Homo sapiens: one gene and its partners. The protein of the gene in region 1 purifies or fractionates together with the protein of each later gene. This does not show direct contact. Each region holds a gene or a part of one and is shown in the gene's direction. Other genes may lie near its edges.

Region 1 (3,747 bases):
AGCTGTGCTTCACCAACACACACAAACGTAGGCTTGGCTTTTTGGGAGCAGTCACATGTGAGCTCATTTTTGCCAAACATTAAATAAAAAGCATGGTAGAATTTGAGGATGCACTTTAAATCATCAAATAGTTCCAGGGAATGAAAGAGCAGAACTTTGGGTTGTTTTTCTGTGCCAGGAGAGAGTGGTGGGGGGCGGAGGAGACCCTTGTTAGAAGATGATGTATTTTGAGATTACTAGATTCACAGAAGATGCACGTGAATATACTCTAACCATTTAAAATTATGTTTCTGAATGCTGCCTTAAAAAATACAACAAGTTATTATCATAATAAAGTGAGGGAGAGTGGAGGGGTAATTATCCAGACAGCCCATTCCAAAATCTATCATATAAATTATCTCCAGATTGTACACTACTTAAAGGTAGAAGAGGATCTTTGAGTTTAACCCTTGTACACTTTGTGATTGTGCCTGTCACTCAATAAATAGTTGATTAATTTGGGGGACGCACCAGGAGCAGTGTTTCCTATCTGAAAGGTGGACCACCGAACTCAGAGGCGGCCCTCTGAGACCAGCAGGATGCAAGTGCGACGACCAATACAAATATCTGAGCATTCAATGGAGTTTTTCCAAACTTCTAGCCTGTTTCTGGGGTGATTTTTTTTCTTAGGATTTAGCAGTACTCCACCGCGCTACAGCAGTTAGCATTTCTAAAGCACACACTCCAACACCCTTCGGCCGTAGCACATTCAATCCCTCCGCCGGGGCGTGGGGGTCTCCTCCCCTCCGAGCACAGTCCCCGGCTTCCCGATCTCCTCTGCCCCATCCCCCCGCCTTCCAAGCACATTGTGCTCACTCTTCCAGGCAGCTCTTTCAGCGGCCGGGCAGTAGCAGGGTTCCGAGCCCGTCTTCTCCGGGGCGGTCACACGTGTCCATTCCCTGGGGTTGGGGATCGCTCTTCCCGCTTGGCTGCTGATTGGTGCCTCCCCCTACCCCACCCTTCCCGCCGCTCTCCAGCCTCCATCCTACTTCGTTCCAGCTCAATCAGCCCCACCGCCTTCTTCCCTCGGAGAAAAAAGCCACTTCAGAGCTCCTTGGGCGCCGTTCTCGGCTGGAATAAAAGCGTTAAGAAACAGGTGGAAAGCACTTCACTTCTCTAGGCTTCATATTTCTAGGGTGGACAGCCCGCTCCTGCTCCGGCTCTGCCCTCGGCATCAATAATAACTGAACTCCCACACGTGCACGTTTCTGTCTCTAGCCCGACCGAAAGGACCACCCCGCGGGCCCTTTAAAAGGACGCGACCACTCAGGCCAAGTGGGGGTGGGAGAGCTCCTGGCCGTCCTCCCTTGGGAAAGTGCTTCAACTCCCCAGTCCCAAAGTCCTGGAGGGCGGAGGGCGCCTCGTGAGAGTTCTCGGGGGTGCGGCCCGCGCCCCCTGGGTCCTGCGGATCTGGGCCCGGGGGCGCGCGCCCCGCCCCTCCCCCTCCCTGGCGGTGCAGCTGTCCGGGCGGGGGTGGGGCGGGGGCGGGGGTTGTTGTTGTGGCGCGGGCAGCCCCGCCCCCTCCTCGTGGGCGGCCCCTCCCCCAGGCCCCGCGTCCGGCCCCTCCGCCCCTAGCCCCATCTGTTTCTCCGGCGGGGACTCGATTATATTGTAGGGGACTGGGGGCGGCCGCCGCCGCAGCCGCGGGATGGGGCGAGCGCGCGGACCCCGCGGGCAGCCGCAGCCGCAGCCGCCTCAGTAGTTCGGGCCCCCGCGCCGCCGCCCCCCGCCCGGCGCCCGCCCTCGGCTCCTGCACTCGCCGAGCGGCGGCAGCAGCGGGAGGAGCGCCCCGCCGCCCCCGCCGAGGACCGCGCGGAGGCTGCGGCGCTGCCGCGGCGGGAGTCCCAGGTCGGCGGGCAGAGCGCGGGCAGCGAGGGGCCGCCGCCTGTGCCGCAGCGGGGAGATGTGCCCAGAGGAGGGCGGCGCGGCCGGGCTGGGCGAGCTCCGCTCCTGGTGGGAGGTCCCGGCCATCGCGCACTTCTGCTCGCTCTTTCGCACCGCGTTCCGCCTGCCCGACTTCGAGATCGAGGTGAGTGGCCGCGCGGGCGGGAGGCGGCGCGCTGCGCCCCCTGCTCCCCCTGCCCCGCGCGGGGTGTCCCGGGCCGTCGCGCAGAGGGGCCGGGGCCCGAGGGACTTCGGCCGGGAGTCGGGGGCCAGGAGGAGGGCGCAAAAGGGCAGGAGGGCGGGCGGGGGCCGCCGGGCTGTGCCCGGGTGCCGAGGGGCGTCGGGCCGGGGACGCCGGATCCTGGGGTGGAGGAGCAGGCACCGCGAGGGCGGGGCGGGCCCGTGCTTTTGTGGGAGAGGGAGCGGGAGCGGGACCCGGCGACCCTCCCGGGACTTCTCCGGTGGGCTGGGGCTGGGTGTGGGCGCGAGGGCTGCGCGCGCTCGCCGCCCGGTGCCATTGAGGCGCGAGCCAGCTGCTCCGGCGGGGCCGGGCGCGGGGGGGGGGCCCGCGCGGGATTAACTCGGACCGGGGCGGGAGTCGGCCGCGGCCGGCGGGGAGGGCTAGCCCCGCTCTGGCGGGCGGGCGCGTGGCAGGGGCTCCCGGAGGCCCCAAGCTCCCGGGAGGCGCTCCGGCCAACTTCGGGCCGGTGGGGACCGGGCCTGGGCGCGGGGCTCTGGAGGTGTGGAAGGAAAGTTTGGGACTCCGTTATTCTTCCACAGCGTCCTTCCTCCCGTAATATCCAGCCTCTTTATCGCGGGGCTCGGGAGCCCTTGGAGTTGATCTCGCCACCATTATCCCCCCGGGCGAGCGCGGAGGACGGGCTGGCCATTCTGGCCAGGCCGGAGGTGTTTTCCAGCCCGGGGCTTTGTGATAACTGGGCCGAAACCCGAGGGTCCTGGAGCGCGGCGGGTGGCGGGAGCTTGCGGAGCGCGGCGCACTCGGCGGCCAGGCATCGGCCAGCCCAGCGGCAGCCCCCTTTCTCCTATTTTTATTTTTATTTTTGGAAGGAGCTGAGAATTAGTCGATTGGTTGGCAGGTTGAATTGCCTTCTCTTCTATGGCAATATGTGTCGTGACTTTTCACCTTTTGCCTTTGGACAAAGGTGAATGGCAACTGCGTTGGTCAGTTTTTGTTTTCTGTTCTGCGGATGGGTTCGCCGACGCAGTAATCAAAATTAGAGCCACTCTTTTGGAAGAGCAAATCGTTGTTGTTGCCTCCCCAGCCCCACGGATCTTACTTTGTGCCATTTTCGGGTTGATTTTAACTCGTTTATTTCAGAGCTCTTTGCCTCACCTTTATTTTTAGATTTAGTCGTGTTTGCTGAAATATCAGTTGCTTCTTCTGTGAATGAAGTGTGGGAACTTGCTCTCGTCGCAGTTAATGAAATCAGGAAAATAAAAAGATCAAAAGGGTTGGGGATGGGAGAATGAAGAGGAATGTAGACAGATAGTCTAGGGCCACTCACTGGCTTTTGGCGATTCTTAGTTCCTTAAGCTGATTAAAACAATGTGAGGAAATGTGGGCTTCTCCACTTTTTAGGAAGAGGTAATAACGGGCATTTTACGTGGCGCCACAGCGTTTGTTTTCAAAGTTTGAACGTGAATGTAGCAAGCATAATTTTATTAATGAAAATATTCTTTAGACAACTGTTAATATTGACGAAAGAAGAGAAACAGAGACACGGAAGCTAAAGAGTTGGGAATCCTAAAGGTCAAAGGATGTTTCTCAGTTACTCTGATGTCCTGTGTTTTCTTTCAGTTGGT
Region 2 (3,647 bases), on another chromosome or scaffold:
TATATACACACATACACATATATGAAATATATATATACAAGGAAAATATATATATACAAGGAAATATATATTTTCCACATATATATTTTTCCATATATATATTTCATATATATATTTTTCCATATATATATTTCATATATATTATATATATTCTTTCTTAATTTTTTTTTTTTTGAGACAGGGTTTCGCTCTGTTGCCCAAGCTAGAGTGCAGTGGCGCCATCTTGGCTCACTGCAAGCTCTGCCTCCTGGGTTCACGCCATTCTCCTGCCTCAGCCTCCCAAGTAGCTGGGACTACAGGTGCCCGCCACCGCGCCAGGCTAATTTTTTGTATTTTTAGTAGAGATGGGGTTTCACCGTGTTAGCCAGGATGGTCTCGATCTCCTGACCTCATGATCCGCCTGCCTCGGCCTCCCAAAGTGCTGGGATTACAGGCGTGAGCCACCGCGCCTGGCCTGTCTGTCTGTCTGTCTGTCTGTCTGTCTTTCTTTCTTTCTTTCTTTCTTTCTTTCTTTCTTTCTTTCTTTCTTTCTTTCTTTCTCTCTTTCTTTCTTTTTCTTTCTTTCTTTCTTTCTCTTTTCTTTCTTTCTTTCTTTCTTTTCTTTTTCTTTCCTTTCTTTCCTTTCTTTTCTCTCGCATCCGAGTGAAGAGACCACCAAACAGGCTTTGAGTGAGCAACAAGGCTGTTTATTTCACCTGGGTGCAGGCGGGCTAAGTCCAAAAAGAGAGTCAGCCAAGGGAGATATGGGTGGGGCCGTTTTATAAGATAGGGGTAGGTAAAGGAAAAATTACAGTCAAAGGGGGGTTCTCTGGCGGGCAGGAGTGGGGGTCACAAGGTGCTCAGTGGGGGAGCTTTTTGAGCCAGGATGAGCCAGGAGAAGGAATTTCACAAGGTAATGTCGTCAGTTAAGGCAAGGACCGGCCATTTTCACTTCTTTTGTGGTGGAATGTCATCAGTTAAGGTAGGAACAGACCATTTAAATTTCACTTCTTTTGTGATTCTTCAGTTACTTCAGGCCGTCTGGATGTATATGTGCAGGTCACAGGGGATATGATGGCTTAGCTTGGGCTCAGACGCCTGACACTTTCTTTTTGAGACAGAGACAGACTCTCACTCTGTTTGCCCAGGATGGAGTGCAGTGACGTGATCTCAGCTCACTGCAACCTTCGCCACCCAGGTTCAAGTGATCCTCCTGCCTCAGCCTCCTGAGTAGCTGGGATTACAGGCGTGCGCCGCAACACCCGGCTAATTTTTTGTATTCTTATTAGAGACGGGGTTTCATCATGTTGGCCAGGCTGATCTCGAACTCCTGACCTCAAGTGATCCACCCGCCTTGGCCTCCCAAAGTGCTGGGATTACAGGTGTGAGCCACTGTGCCCAGCCTTTTTCTTGTCATTTGTAGTTCTCACTAGTGAACTCATCTTCAACAGGAGTTTTTTGTTTTTCTTTTTTTTGAGACAGTGTCTCTCTCTGTCGCCCAGGCTGGAGTGCAGTGGCGCAATCTTGGCTCACTGCAAGCTCCATCTCCCGGGTTCACGCCATTCTCCTGCCTCAGCCTCCCAAGTAGCTGGGACTACAGGTGCCCGCCACCACGCGCAGCTAATTTTTTTGTACTTTTAGTAGAGACGGGGTTTCACCATGTTAGCCAGGATGGTCTCGATCTCCTGACCTCAGGTGATCCGCCTGCCTTGGCCTCCTAAAGTGCTGGGATTACAGGCATGAGCCACCGCACCCGGCCGAGTTTTTTGTTTTTCTGTTGGAGATTCACGCGGAAGTGTTTCCACAGCATGGCATGGTGTTTTCAGGACACTAGGGGTTCAACTAATTCTAGGCCAGTTTTTATGTTGATTTCTTGGTTTACAATTCTTATACTATAAATTCAGATCCCCACTTAGACCTGGCTCAGATTTGACTTGAATTCACATTTCTTATGAATGACTGTCTTTCTCTATCCCTTCCATAGCTCCAAGGCAAAATGTGTACCTTAAAACAGCTTCAGCAGACCTGGTGTGGTGGCTTTAGCAGGCCTGGTATGGTGGCTCACGCCTGTAATCCCAGTGCGTTGGGAGGCTGAGGTGGGAGGATCGCTTGAGTCCAGGAGTTTGAGGACAGCCTGGGCAACATAGTGAGACCTCCATCTCTAGAAACAAACAAACAATTAGCTGGGCATAGTGCTGCATGCTTGTAGTCCTAGCTACTTGGGAGGCTAAGGTGGGAGAATCACTTGAGCCCAGGATTTCAAGATTACGGTGAGCTATAATCAAACCACTCCAGTCTGGGTGACAGAGTAAGACTCTGTCTCATAAAAAGAAACCAGCTTCTGGCCGGGAATGGTGGCTCACGCCTGTAATCCCAGCACTTTGGGAGGCCGAGGTAGGTGGATCACTTGAGGTCAGGAGTTTGAGACCAGCCTATCCAACATGGCAAAAACTCCTCTCTACTAAAAATACAAAAATTAGCTGGGCATGGTGGCGCACTCCTGTAATGCCAGCTACTTGGGAGGCTGAGGCAGGAGAATCACTTGAACCCAGGAGGCGGAGGTTGCAGTGAGCTGAGATTGCGCCACTGTACTTCAGCCTGGGCAACAGAGCAAGACTCCATCTCAAAAAAGAAAAGAAACCAGCTTCAGCCTGAACCTGTACCTGGCTTGCCGTCGCAGGCGTTCCTCTCTGCATCAGCTCCTGTGGGCCCCTCTGGTTTTAGATTCCCTCATCAATGCTGCCTCCTGAGGATTTTCCTTCCCCCTTTTCTTCCTTTTTCAAGCTATGTGCTATTTTTTTTTCCCCAGCATTTCTGTATCTGGAGCTGGAGAAGAGAGCCTTCCTCGGCTCAGTCCATTATGTGGCTAGAAGTCCCCACTTGCCTTCCCCACACTCCAGTGTCTCCATCTGTCCAGTGGGGATGAGTTCCTCCCGCTTAGGGTCATCATGGGAATCACATGGGATAGTCACAGTGTCTGGCAAGGAGTGGATGCTCAGTGAATGTTGGTCTCTTCTCTTAGGACGGCTGTATTTCAGCAGATGAGGAGATGGGGTGCAGTGGGGCACTGAGCCTGAGCTGCTGAGCTCTCAGGCCATTGCTGCGTCTGAGACCTCGTGGTGCCATTTGCATCCCTGGGGGACCAAGGTCACTCTGGGACGGGGTCCCTGCCTTCTCAGCACTTACAGCCCACCTGGGTGAAAGATGAACTAATGGATGAAAAGGGAAAAGGTGAAAAAGTGACAACATGAAAAATCTTCAAACGTTCAGCAGTTCAACTTTTTGTATCTGCTGTTGCCAGGCTGGAGTGCAGTGGCACAATCATGGCTTACTGTAGCCTCAAACTCCTGGCCTCAAGCAGTCCTCCCACCATGGCCTCCAAAAGTGCTGGGATTACAGGATGAGCCACTTCTTCAGCCTTCTTTTTTTTCTTCAATTAGATATAACTTACAGAAAAGGGCACCGATCTTAAATACATAGCCTGAAAAAATTTTGACATATATTTATACCCATGTAACCGCCACCCAGATCAAGACAGAACATTTCTGGTTGTGAGGCATCTGTGGGCTTCCCTGTGCCAACCCCCTCCCAAAGCCAGAGGAGATGCCCAGGCTTACATTGGCCACCAGAGACTTGCTTTGCCTGTTTTGAGCCTCATATAAATGGAA
Region 3 (3,647 bases), on another chromosome or scaffold:
ATTACAGGTTTGAGTCATGACACCCTACCCTAACTTTATTTTAAATACTTTGAAAACTGGTTCCATGGCCTTGTGATTATTTGAATGCAACCTCCCTGAACCGCAGCATCTTCACTTTTCACCTGTTTGTTTTTTCGAGACAGGGTCTCTCTGTTTCCCTGGCTGGAGTGCAGTGGTGTCATCATAGCTCACTGCAGCCTCAACCTCCCAGGCTCAAGCGATTCTCCCGCCTCAGCCTCCTGAGTAGCTGGGACTACAGGTCCCAGCTAATTTTTGTATTTTTAGTAGAGATGGGTCTCGCTGTGTTGCCCAGAATGGAACTCCTGGCCTCAAGCAATCTTCCCACCTCTACCTCCCAAAATGTTGGGATTACGGGTATGAACTACTGTGCCCAGATGGTATCTTCATCTGTTAAATGAAAATAACCATGGAGAGCTGGGGGTTCCAAAGCACTTAGGATGTAGTAGGTGAATTGAGAGATCTAGTGTCATAATTATTATCATCATTCATTGCTGAACGCAGTCGGCTTCAGTTGCAAATAAAGCAAACATGATTCAAACTGCCTTAAACAATCAGGGAGGTTATTGGTTCATGAAACCTGCAGTTAGGGGATGGGGTACACTTCATGTCAGTTCAAACCAGTGGCTCAATGTTGTCATCAAAGACTCAGATTCTTTCTCCCTTTCCATTCTACCATGCTCAGGTTAGCCTCATTCCAAGCTTTAGGATCAGGGCTCTGTGCTTCCTCACTCATGTTCAGAGAAGAGAGAGAGGTTAAGAGTAGGAAGCTGGCACTGCAGCCTCAACCTCCTGGACTCAAGGAATCCTCCTATCTCAACTTCCCAGGTAGCTGAGACTACGGGTGTGTGCCACCACACCAGGCTAACTTATATATATAATATATATGTAATATTATATATATGTATTACTATATATATGTAATATTATATATATGTATTACTATATATGTAATATTACATATATATTACTATATATATGTAATATTATATATATTACTATATATATGTAATGTATTACATTTTTTTGAGATGGTGCAACCTCCACCCCCTGGGTTCAAGCAATTCTCCTGGCTTAGCCCTCCGAGTAGCTGGGATTACAGGCATGCACCACCACACCTAGCTAATTTTTGTATTTTTAGTAGAGACGGGGTTTCACCATGTTGGCCAGGCTGGTTTCCAACTCCTGACCTCAAGTGATCCGCCCACCTCAGCCTTCCAAAGTGCTGGGATTACTGGCGTGAGTCACCGCGCCCAGCCAATTTTATATTTTATTTATTTCATTTTATTTTATTTTATTTTTTTTATTTTTGTAGAGAAAGGGTCTCACTTTGCTGTCCAGACTGGTCTGGAACTCCTGGCCTCAAGCAATCCTCCTGTCTCTTCCTCTCAAAGTGCTGGGATTATCGGTGGGAGCCACCTCGCCCAGCTGCATTTTTCTTAAAGGACTGTAGGAAGAAACTGAACAATTTTTTGTAGGAAAAATGAAAGATAGTCCACATGTTTTAAAAAAAAACAGAAAGAAACATATTTATCTGTGGCAGTAAAGACTACCTCAGCTCACTTCACTCATTTGAATTACCCGCCTGGCCCCTGAAACCTCTATGCTTTAGCAGGATATATCTGTAATAGACGAAACTGATATAAACATATCAACCTGAAAATATTAACGGTTTACATGCAATACAAGTTTATTCCTTGATCACTTAACAGTCCATGACAGACGTTCCAGGTCTGTGGGCAGCTCTCCTCCAAGTGATTATCCAGGGACTCAGGACTCTTCTTGGGGCTCCACCACCCCAGGGCCGCTTCACCCCACGCATCCAGCCAACCAAGGGAGAGTGTGAGGAGGCGGCACAGCTGCCCCAGTCCGAAGTAGAGCAGGTCACATGCACTTAAACCCCATTGGTGAGAACTAGTCACATGGCCACATCAAGTTGCAAGGAAGGCTGGGAGATGTAGTTCCGGCTGGACCAGCTCTTCCCAGCTACAACTCTATTATTGTGCAAGGGCAGAACAGATTTTGGTGGGTAGCAAACCATCTCTATCTTGCATGAAAATGCTGGGGAGACCTCCTCAGGCATTTAAGTCACAGACCGCTTTGATTCTTTCTTAGCCAAGTAGTGAATATGCAGGAGATTTGGGGATTTCACCAAATTCCATTCATTTCTTCCAGGCATGGAAAATTTGAAGCATATTATCACCCTTGGCCAGGTCATCCACAAACGGTGTGAAGAGATGAAATACTGCAAGAAACAGTGCCGGCGCCTGGGCCACCGCGTCCTCGGCCTGATCAAGCCTCTGGAGATGCTCCAGGACCAAGGAAAGAGGAGCGTGCCCTCTGAGAAGTTAACCACAGCCATGAACCGCTTCAAGGCTGCCCTGGAGGAGGCTAATGGGGAGATAGAAAAGTTCAGCAATAGATCCAATATCTGCAGGTTTCTAACAGCAAGCCAGGACAAAATACTCTTCAAGGACGTGAACAGGAAGCTGAGTGATGTCTGGAAGGAGCTCTCGCTGTTACTTCAGGTTGAGCAACGCATGCCTGTTTCACCCATAAGCCAAGGAGCGTCCTGGGCACAGGAAGATCAGCAGGATGCAGACGAAGACAGGCGAGCTTTCCAGATGCTAAGAAGAGGCAAGCTGGGTCTTTGGTGGGGAGTGGGAGTGCAGTTGAATGCATTTTAGTCTCACTTTAATTTACCAAAGGAGCAGCAATGATGAAGTTTGAGCAGTTGTAATATACTTGTACCTCAAAACTCCTAGCTGGGCGCGATGGCTCTCGCCTGTAATCCCAGCACTTTGGGAGGCCGAGGCGGGCTGATCACTAGGTCAGGAGACTGAGACCATCCTGGCTAACACGGTGAAACCCCGTCTCTACTAAAAATACAAAAAATTAGCCGGGCATGGTGGCGGGCGCCTGTAGTCCCAGCTACTCGGGAGGCTGAGGCAGGAGAACAGCGTGAACCCGGGAGGCAGAGCTTGCAGTGAGCTGAGATCGCGCCACTGCACTCCAGCCTGGGCGACAGAGCGAGACTCTGCCTCAGAAAACAAACAAACAAACAAACAAACAAACAAAACTCCTAACATCCTTTGGCCCAGATATATGGTGGGGGCTGGTGAAATTTGGGCAAGCCAGCGTTGAAGAGGAGTTTTGTTTTGTTTTGTTTCATTTTTTGAGACAGGGTCTCTGTTGCACGGGCTAGAGGACGGCGGCACAATCATAGCTCACTGCAGCCTCAGGTTCAAGTGATCCTCCCACCTCAGGCTCCCGAGTGGCTGGTACTATAGGTGTGCACGCCACAATGCCCAGCTAATTTTTATTTTATTTTTTGTAGTTAGAGAGTCTCACTATGTTGCCCAGGCTGGTGTAGAACTCCTGGCCTCAAGTGATCCTCTTGCCTCAGCCTCCCAAAGTGCTGGGATTACAGGCACCTAGGAGGTCGAGGCTGCAGTGAGCCACGATTTCTCCATTGCACTGCAGCCTGGGCGACAGAGCGAGATCCTGTCTCCAAAAACAAAGGATGGAGGGGGCCGGCGTGAGAAGTAAATCTCCCTCCTTGACCTCAGGGGCCCCTGTTTCCCTTTCTGAGGACATGAGACCTTCAGTACTAAAACTGGGGAAGTCTG

Evidence for each region.
Region 2: the proteins of CECR2 (region 1) and ALPL purify together in Homo sapiens (affinity purification with mass spectrometry, with the first as the bait; one large-scale study listed by BioGRID). This does not show direct contact.
Region 3: the proteins of CECR2 (region 1) and MLKL purify together in Homo sapiens (affinity purification with mass spectrometry, with the first as the bait; one large-scale study listed by BioGRID). This does not show direct contact.

The regions. Positions count from the first base shown.
Region 1 is NC_000022.11:17,367,842-17,371,588, forward strand, and holds the start of CECR2 (chromatin remodeling regulator CECR2), read left to right. Parts: upstream 1-1,618; 5' UTR 1,619-1,942; coding exon 1,943-2,068; intron 2,069-3,747. UniProt on the Homo sapiens protein: Regulatory subunit of the ATP-dependent CERF-1 and CERF-5 ISWI chromatin remodeling complexes, which form ordered nucleosome arrays on chromatin and facilitate access to DNA during DNA-templated processes such as DNA replication, transcription, and repair.
Region 2 is NC_000001.11:21,554,335-21,557,981, forward strand, and holds part of ALPL (alkaline phosphatase, tissue-nonspecific isozyme isoform 1 preproprotein), read left to right. Parts: intron 1-3,647. UniProt on the Homo sapiens protein: Alkaline phosphatase that metabolizes various phosphate compounds and plays a key role in skeletal mineralization and adaptive thermogenesis.
Region 3 is NC_000016.10:74,694,306-74,697,952, reverse strand, and holds part of MLKL (mixed lineage kinase domain-like protein), read left to right. Parts: intron 1-2,193; 5' UTR 2,194-2,195; coding exon 2,196-2,655; intron 2,656-3,647. UniProt on the Homo sapiens protein: Pseudokinase that plays a key role in TNF-induced necroptosis, a programmed cell death process. Does not have protein kinase activity.